2 linked regions of the Homo sapiens genome follow. The protein of the gene in region 1 interacts with the protein of each later gene in a pairwise test. Each region holds a gene or a part of one and is shown in the gene's direction. Other genes may lie near its edges.

Region 1 (3,812 bases):
CACACAGGACATTTTAAACATTCACTATTTGTAGTTAGCTTTCAAAATAACTAGTTCTGATTTGTTATTTATAAACTCCTGGAATGATTAACTTCCAGAAGAGTGGCTTTGCAGGAAAGCTGTTAGGGAAATACATGGCTTGCATTCTTTTGAATTTTTTATATAACACAGCATTTAAAGCAGTTACCTGCTATGTTATTGCATTTGCCACTGAGTGTCATGATGCAGTCAGTGTTCCAGCTTTGAAATTAGTGACTTTCAGTGTAATGTAATGAAGAGAGTAGTAAGAGGAAGGGTTTAACTGAGAGAGTAAAAGACATTAGAGAACCTTCCATTTTAGTTTCTTTAAAAAAAAAAAAAAGGATGAAGAGATTTGAGAATTTAAATAAATGAATAACAATTTAATGCTTTTCAGGCTTTCAAAAAGCAATGGTCAAGACTATGTCTGCAGCCCTGAAGATACCTCATTTTGGTTATTGTGATGAGATTGACCTTACTGAACTGGTTAAGCTCCGAGAAGAATTAAAACCCATTGCATTTGCTCGTGGAATTAAACTCTCCTTTATGCCTTTCTTCTTAAAGGTGAGATTCATTCATTTCAAACAAGGCTTGAGTAGGACATTTATTTGTTTGTTTGTCTTTTTGAGACAGAGTTTTGCTCTTGTCACCCAGGCTGGAGTGCAATGGCACAATCTCGGCTCACTGCAACCTCCACCTTCCGGGTTTAAACAATTCTCTTGCCTTAGCCTCCTGAGTAGCTGGGAATACAGGCACCTGCCACCACGCCTGGCTAATTTTGTATTTTTAGTAGACACGTGGTTTCGCCATGTTGGTCAGGCTGGTCTTGAACTCCTGACCTCAGGTGATCCACCCCCGCCCCAGCCTCCCAAAGTGCTGGAATTCCAGGCGTGAGCCACCATACCTGGCCCCAAGTAGGACATTTAAATTTTGCTTTGCCAACATGCAATATGTTGACTGTGGCCTTGAATAAAAATATTACTTTTCGCAACATCAGATAGTTAGAAAATGTGCCATTTCTTTGTTCAATAGGAAATTATAAAATTGAGATTTCTGTACTATATTTTTAGCTGCTTATCTTTGAGCTAGGTAGAGACAATTCTGCCAGTTAAGTAAAGCCTCTGATCCTAAAAGGATCACTCCAACCAAGTCTTGGTTTGAACTAAAATGAGACTTGATATTAATTTTGCAATATCACTGACATATATTTAATATTTATTTTCATTTACTCAACCAACTTATATTGAGGATCCTGGGAATCATTTCTAGTGCTAAGCCTTGGGACCAGTATAAAATGGAGTAAGACCATCAGCTAACCTTGAGCAGCATACAGTCTAGCTCACATTAGTGACTGTGCAGCAGCTACCATGTGCCAGCCTCCATAGTAAGCATGCTGTATACATTATCTCTCTCTTTTTTTTTTTTTTTTTTGGTATGAATCTCATTTATTGAAAAGATTATTTCTCACCTTTCTCAAATTGAAGACTGCAAAAAATAAAAGCAGTGCTTCATTGAGTTGTCATGAGCCTGGGGCAGGAGCAGCAGCGCTGCCTCTCCACGCTCCGGGAAACCGCAGCTGGCGTGTGCCACATCGGTCCCACCTCGCTTTACAAAACAGTCCTGAAGCTTAATCAAATAAAACTATTGAACACAACATTTACATTAGAAAAAGAGAGCTGGGTGTAGGAAAGGCCGAGCCTGGTGTTCCCTTTAAGCGAAGGTGGCTCCACAGTTGGGGCATCTTCGCTCCCTCAAGGCAAAACAGCAAATGAACCCAAAGGGGAACAGGATGATGGCCAGGAAGATGCCCAGGAAGGTGAAGCAGTCCTGCAGCCCCCCGACCCTGCAGACGGGACAGCCTCCCACGACCACGATAGAGTTGGTAGGATAGCGGATGACGGTCCAGCTGTGGATGTTGTAGACCCTGGGATGGTGGGTGGGTGTCCGTGTGACGAGGTAGGAGTAGGGCGGCTGCGGGGGCGCGGCGGGGATGGCGCCGTAGCCGTGCGGGCCTCACGCGTAGTCGCCCTGGCCGGCCTCCAGGTTGTAGGCGGGCGGCCGCTCCTGCAGCAGAGTCTTGTGGTCCATGGCGGCCCGGCTCGGCTCTGTCGGCCCCGGCGGGGACGCGGCGCACGCCCCGGGTGGCTCGGGCCCCTCTGAGGCAGACGCGGGGCAGGGCCCATTATCTCTTAATTCTCAGAGTAACCCTGACATGTAAATATTACTGTCTCCACTTTCCATTTAAGGAAATTGGGGCTCAGAGAGGTTGAGAAACTTGTTAAGGACTTACAGCTAACAGGTGGAGAAGCTCTTTCAGGTTCTGGTCTGTTTTACTCAGAAGGACATACTGATGTCTGTAATGCCAACATGTCCAGTCCTTTCTCTACACTGCACCAAGACTGGTCTTCCGTAAATCAAATTACTGTAATATTCTCTGATTCTTTTCAGTGGTTCCCTTTCATTACCTTCAGGATAATTTGTATGCCATACTCCTTAGTGTGGCATACAAATGTGTTATAAGTCTCTGCTGCCTGCCTCTCCATTCTTACCTCACTCCCTCATATTAAGGTACCCATAATTGCTGGAATACACAATTCCACCTGAAGTGCCCGTTCTTCTCGATCAAACACCTGCAAATCCCAAACTGTGGTCAGGTACAGACTCCTTCTGTGGCTGTCACTATTTGAATTAAATACTTTTGTTTCCCACTGTTAACTTATCTCAGTGCATTGAGTGCTTACTCAGTTTTCTCTTCACTTACTCACTTACTGGGCGCTGAGCCTCATGAGGCAGAAACTATTCTTCTTTATCTCCCTTTTTCTTTCTTTCTTCTTTTTTTTTTTAGAAAGGGTTCACTTTGTTGCCCAGGCTGCTGGAGTGCAGTGGCACAATCACAGCTCACTGCAACCTTGAACTCCTGGGTTCAAGTGATCCTCTGCCTCAGCCTCCCGAGAAGCTGGAACCACAGGTGTGCACCACCACACCTGGCTAATTTTTTTTTATTCTTAGTAGAGATGTGTCTCGCAGTGCTGCCCAGGCTGGTCTTACAGGGATGAGCCAGCATGCCTGGCTATTTTGTTTTAAAATAAAACATAAGTTTCAGAACATTCGAAAAAATACTACACAGTATTGTAGAGGGGGAACAAATGACCTAATCCATTGACACATACCTTGTATTTTCTTGGACAAAATTTGGATTATACTCAAATATTTTTATATGTAACAGTTTAGACTAACCTTAGGGGTTTTTAGATAAAGACTATTAAAATTACAGTTATTGAATCAAATGCTTACTAAAACTTTCAAGTTGGCTGGGCGCAGTGTCTCACGACTGTAATCCCAACACTTTAGGAGGCCAAGGCAGGCAGATTGCTTGAGCTCAGGAGTTCAAGACCAGCCTGGGCAACATGGTGAAACCCCATCTCTACAAAAAATACAAAAGTTACCTGGGCATGGTGGCACACGCCTATAGTTCCAGCTACTCGGGAGGCTGAGGCAGGAGGGTCACTCGAGCCAAGGACGTTGAGGCTACAGTGAGCTGAGATCATGCCACTGCACTGCAGCCTAGGTGACAAAGAAAGACCCTGTCTCAAAAACAAACAAGAAAAACTTCCAAGTCATAAAAATTAAGGAACTCGTAGCAGTTCTTTTAATTATATTTTTCTTCAGTTGATCTACTCTCTTAACCTGTCCTAACTAATGAAAATGAAATGTCTCTATATATTTAAACTTTTTTCTTAACTCTCTAGTTCAAGAATTTGATTTTTTTCCCATCAAGACCCCGATGCACTGAG
Region 2 (3,812 bases), on another chromosome or scaffold:
TGGCTCAGAGAAATGACACCATGGTCACGGTCCCCCACATGGTTGATAGCAGAATCCAGATTGGAGTCCACGTCTGTCTGGGCCAAGCCTGAGCTCTTCCACGGTCCCACACCACTAAGGTTTTGTTCTTTATGAAAGGCTCTCGGGCCCAGATAGCTCCTTAGAGATCCCAGGTAACAGAACAAGCTTTGGCTTCAAAAGAAAAAACTGTCATTTGTACAAAGCCATCCATCAGCAGTGCTCATAATAGCAAGAAACTGGAAACAACCCAAAGGCCCCGAAAACAGGCATGGCGGAGCAGCTGATAGGTCCTCCATGCAGCAGAGAGTTACGCAGCCATGGCAGTGGCAAGGTGCAGATTGTCCTGAGGTGGGGACACACACCTGGGGCACCTCGGGTGAGGAAGCTCCTCGCTGAGCATGCGGTGCCCACTAGAGACAGCCTGGAGCTCTGTGACAGGCCTGGGTGCACACCCTCCTGGGCCGCTAGCCGGGTGCATGGCTTTGGGTGGGGATGAGAACCCTGAGGCTGGGCTTTGGGTAGCTGGCTTGCCAACAAGGGGTATGCCACAGGGTGATACCTGGGAAAGGCTCGGCAAGGGCCCGCCACCACACTGGTGCCCAGCAGATGGCCGTCCAGTGTCTAATGTATCTGCAAATAGACTGGCATGGACCCCAGGAATCCAGAATCCTGCGGAATCAGGAGCTTGGTCTGCCTGGGTCTTTTTCTCCCCTGTGAAGTTGTTCTAAGTCATGATGTACAAGGGGCTTAGAGTTTAGCCCATTGGGAATTAAGGGTCAGGCCCCCACTTCCTTTGAAGGCTAGAGGCAGACCACCCCAACTTCACCCCACCCAGACCCAGGTCCAGTGGTACAAAAGCTGGCTGGCTGGGGTGTGGTGTAGGCCAGGTGGCTCCCTCAACTCACCAGCCATCCTTGATCCCTCCTTGGCCAGGCCGTCCTGCGATGTGCTGGTGGAAAGGGGGCCGATGGCCTGTTTAAACCCACCTGTGATGGATTTGTCATCTCCACTGCCGGCCGAGCCTGTGCAGGTTCAGGTTGAGCGGTGGCAGGATGTGAAATGCTGCTCAAGGTTTAGGCCCAGGTCAGAGCCTGTTGAGCCCCATAATGTCACGTGACTCAGTGTCTCCTCCCTTTCTAGTGTGGTGCCTCTTGTCCAGATGGGAGAGACCGATGCGAACGTGGCCAAGTTCTTAAACAGGTACTCGCGTGGAACCTGGGGGTTCCTCTCTGAAAGCCGAGGCTCATCTGTGGGAAGTAGCAGCGGTGCAGCGGTCCGGGAAGCAGTGTGGGGCAGCATTCCCGCACCCCCTCCTTCATTCCCTTAGTGTTTATGAACATCTGCTCTGTGCCAGGCACCACGCCGGGCACAGGGGAGGCAGTGGTGAACAAGGTGGGCCCTGTGCCTGTCCCGATAAGATTTAGATCTTATTGGGAGAGGCTGCTGTAAAAACCAGGAAGAAAAACCTAAGTGCAAAGTGGCATTGCGGGGGCAAAGGGCGTTCTTAGAGGCTGGGTGCTCAGGGGAGGCCTCTCGGTGGTGACTGACCAGGGAGCCAGGCTTCAGGCCCTCTCTCAGCCAGTTTCCTGTCCCCGAGAGGGCCTGCGGCAGCATGAACCAACAAGAGAGCCGGGCCAAGCTGCGCTCAGGGGACCCCATGCAGGCCCCAGTGAGCCAGGCTAGCCCAGGGAGGGCTTCCTCTGCCTCGCGGCCGGCCCATGAGGCTGGAGCCACACCTGGCCCAAAGCCTGCTCTGCGGGTTCCTGCCCCAGCCCTGGCTTCTGTGGCATCAGTGTGGGCAAGGCCAGAGCCTGGGGGCAGGTAGAGAGCTGGGGGAGCAGGTCTGCACCCCAGGAGCTGTCCTGGGTGTCTAGAAAGTGACCTCAGGCCCTTGACTGTGGCCACTCCTCCCAGAGACATGGCGCTTTGACGGGTCCTGAGCAGCTCCTTTCCTTCTGGGAGGGGGGTTTCGCCGGGAGTGAGGAGCAGGTCTACTTCACCTTCAAAGCAGCAACCCTGCGGTCCCATAGCATTGCACGGGACAGGCCATTTCATCTCCTCAGTGAGGCTTCACAGAGCCAACAAGCAACAGGCACACCACTGCCCTCCAGGAGCATGCGGCCCAGGGGTAAAATACCCTGAACAACCTCCCCTTCGCTCTTCCTGAGAGCCAGCCGTGGGGCCCAGGGGGCCTGAGTCAGGGGAGGACTCAGGAGGATGTGGTGTGGAGCTGGCCTCTGAGGGCAAGACTGGGGCAGAGAGAGAGGGAGGAACGTGGTGCCTCGTGCTGGGAGTGAAACAGCAAAAGGTGCGGACAGCAGAAGGCAGAAGAGCTGACAGCGTAAGCGCCTTCTGGGGCCCGTGGCGTCGTCCTCTAGTTCCCTCCACTGCTGCCCCTGCAGAAGGCCTCATGCACAGATGACCATTGCTGTTGGTTCAAAGGAGGAGGCGGGAAAGGGGCTGGGCTCTGGTCTCTAGAGTGCTCCAGCCTGTGCTTCTCACCCGGTACCTTTGGCGATGTTTGGAGGCATTACTAGTTGTCACACTGGGTGCAGGGGTGCCACTGGCACCTGGTGGGTGGAGACCAAAGGTGCTGTCAGCATCCTACACTGCACAGGATGCACAGGACAGCCCCGAACACACAGAATGATCCAGAATGTCAGTAGGGCCTAGTCCAGCAGTGTCAGCATCAGCCAGGGCAGGAACTAGACCTGCAGAGCCCCGGGCCCAGCCCAGCCCAGCCCTCCTGAGTCAGAATCTGCACGTCGCTGAGATCCCCTGGTGATGCCTGTGCACACTGTAGTTTGGGAAACACCCAAACTGATCACGCACCTGAGCCCTGATCACTCAAAGGTGCAAAAACCGGCTCAGAGAGGAGTCCAAAGTCATCTGCCCCATGGGGTAGGGCCGGGGCAATGGCCTCATCCTGCAGGAATGGCCCCAGCCTTGACACTGGAGTAGAGTCCTTGGCATTCACAGCAGCTGGCCTCGTGTGCCATCCATTAAGTGCAAGATGGCTGGGCCCCCGCCCTCCCTGCACAATGTGCCCAGAGTGCGTCATTTATATCTCCTCCTTGTAGGCGGATATGGGAAGACCCAGTTAGCGTTGATCTCTCATTTCAAACCATTCTGTTTGCTTCTCTCTCTCTGCCCCTCCAGACTCAGTGACTATCTCTTCACGCTAGCCAGATATGCAGCCATGAAGGAGGGGAATCAAGAGAAAATATACATGAAAAATGACCCATCGGCCGAGTCTGAGGGACTCTGAAATCACAGAAAGTGGGAGCTTGGAGGATCCCTCCATGGCGATGGCCGTGGAGAGAGGAGCTTGCCCTTCTGGGGTCCTGGTTCCTGAAGAGCTCACCCAGAGAGGCTCAAAGCAGCCTTTTGTCCCAGCTCAGCTTTGATCTACACCTCTTGCCACCTTCCTCAAGGGACTGTGACCCTTTGGGGATTCTGTCCCTGACCCTGCTTCCCCAAGCTCTCCTGGGTCTTGGAGGGATGTGGGAATGAATTGGCATTGCAGGAAAGACAGGTAAAGTGATTGCTGCAATGAGAAGGAGCTGTGCGGAAAAGGAATAAAAGTTGGAAAGGCTGGAGCCGTGTGTGTGTGTGTGTGTGTGTGTGTGTGTGTGTGTGTGTGTGTGAGAGAGAGCCCTCCCACTGCCAGCTCAGGTTGTTCACAGATTTGGAATGGGACCAGAGGCCCTTGAAAATGTAATTGTGATTTACCTGTGCCAAAGGTGCTTTAAATGTCACATTTGTAAAGGGGAAGGCGGACAAGATTTGGA

What was found.
Region 2: the proteins of DBT (region 1) and MMAB interact in binary tests that used the Homo sapiens proteins (3 or more experiments, as listed by UniProt).

What each region holds. Positions count from the first base shown.
Region 1 is NC_000001.11:100,211,587-100,215,398, reverse strand, and holds part of DBT (lipoamide acyltransferase component of branched-chain alpha-keto acid dehydrogenase complex, mitochondrial isoform 1 precursor), read left to right. Parts: intron 1-415; coding exon 416-582; intron 583-1,448; exon of another isoform or gene 1,449-2,176; intron 2,177-3,812. UniProt on the Homo sapiens protein: The branched-chain alpha-keto dehydrogenase complex catalyzes the overall conversion of alpha-keto acids to acyl-CoA and CO(2).
Region 2 is NC_000012.12:109,556,505-109,560,316, reverse strand, and holds part of MMAB (corrinoid adenosyltransferase MMAB precursor), read left to right. Parts: intron 1-1,161; coding exon 1,162-1,221; intron 1,222-3,180; coding exon 3,181-3,289; 3' UTR 3,290-3,812. UniProt on the Homo sapiens protein: Converts cob(I)alamin to adenosylcobalamin (adenosylcob(III)alamin), a coenzyme for methylmalonyl-CoA mutase, therefore participates in the final step of the vitamin B12 conversion.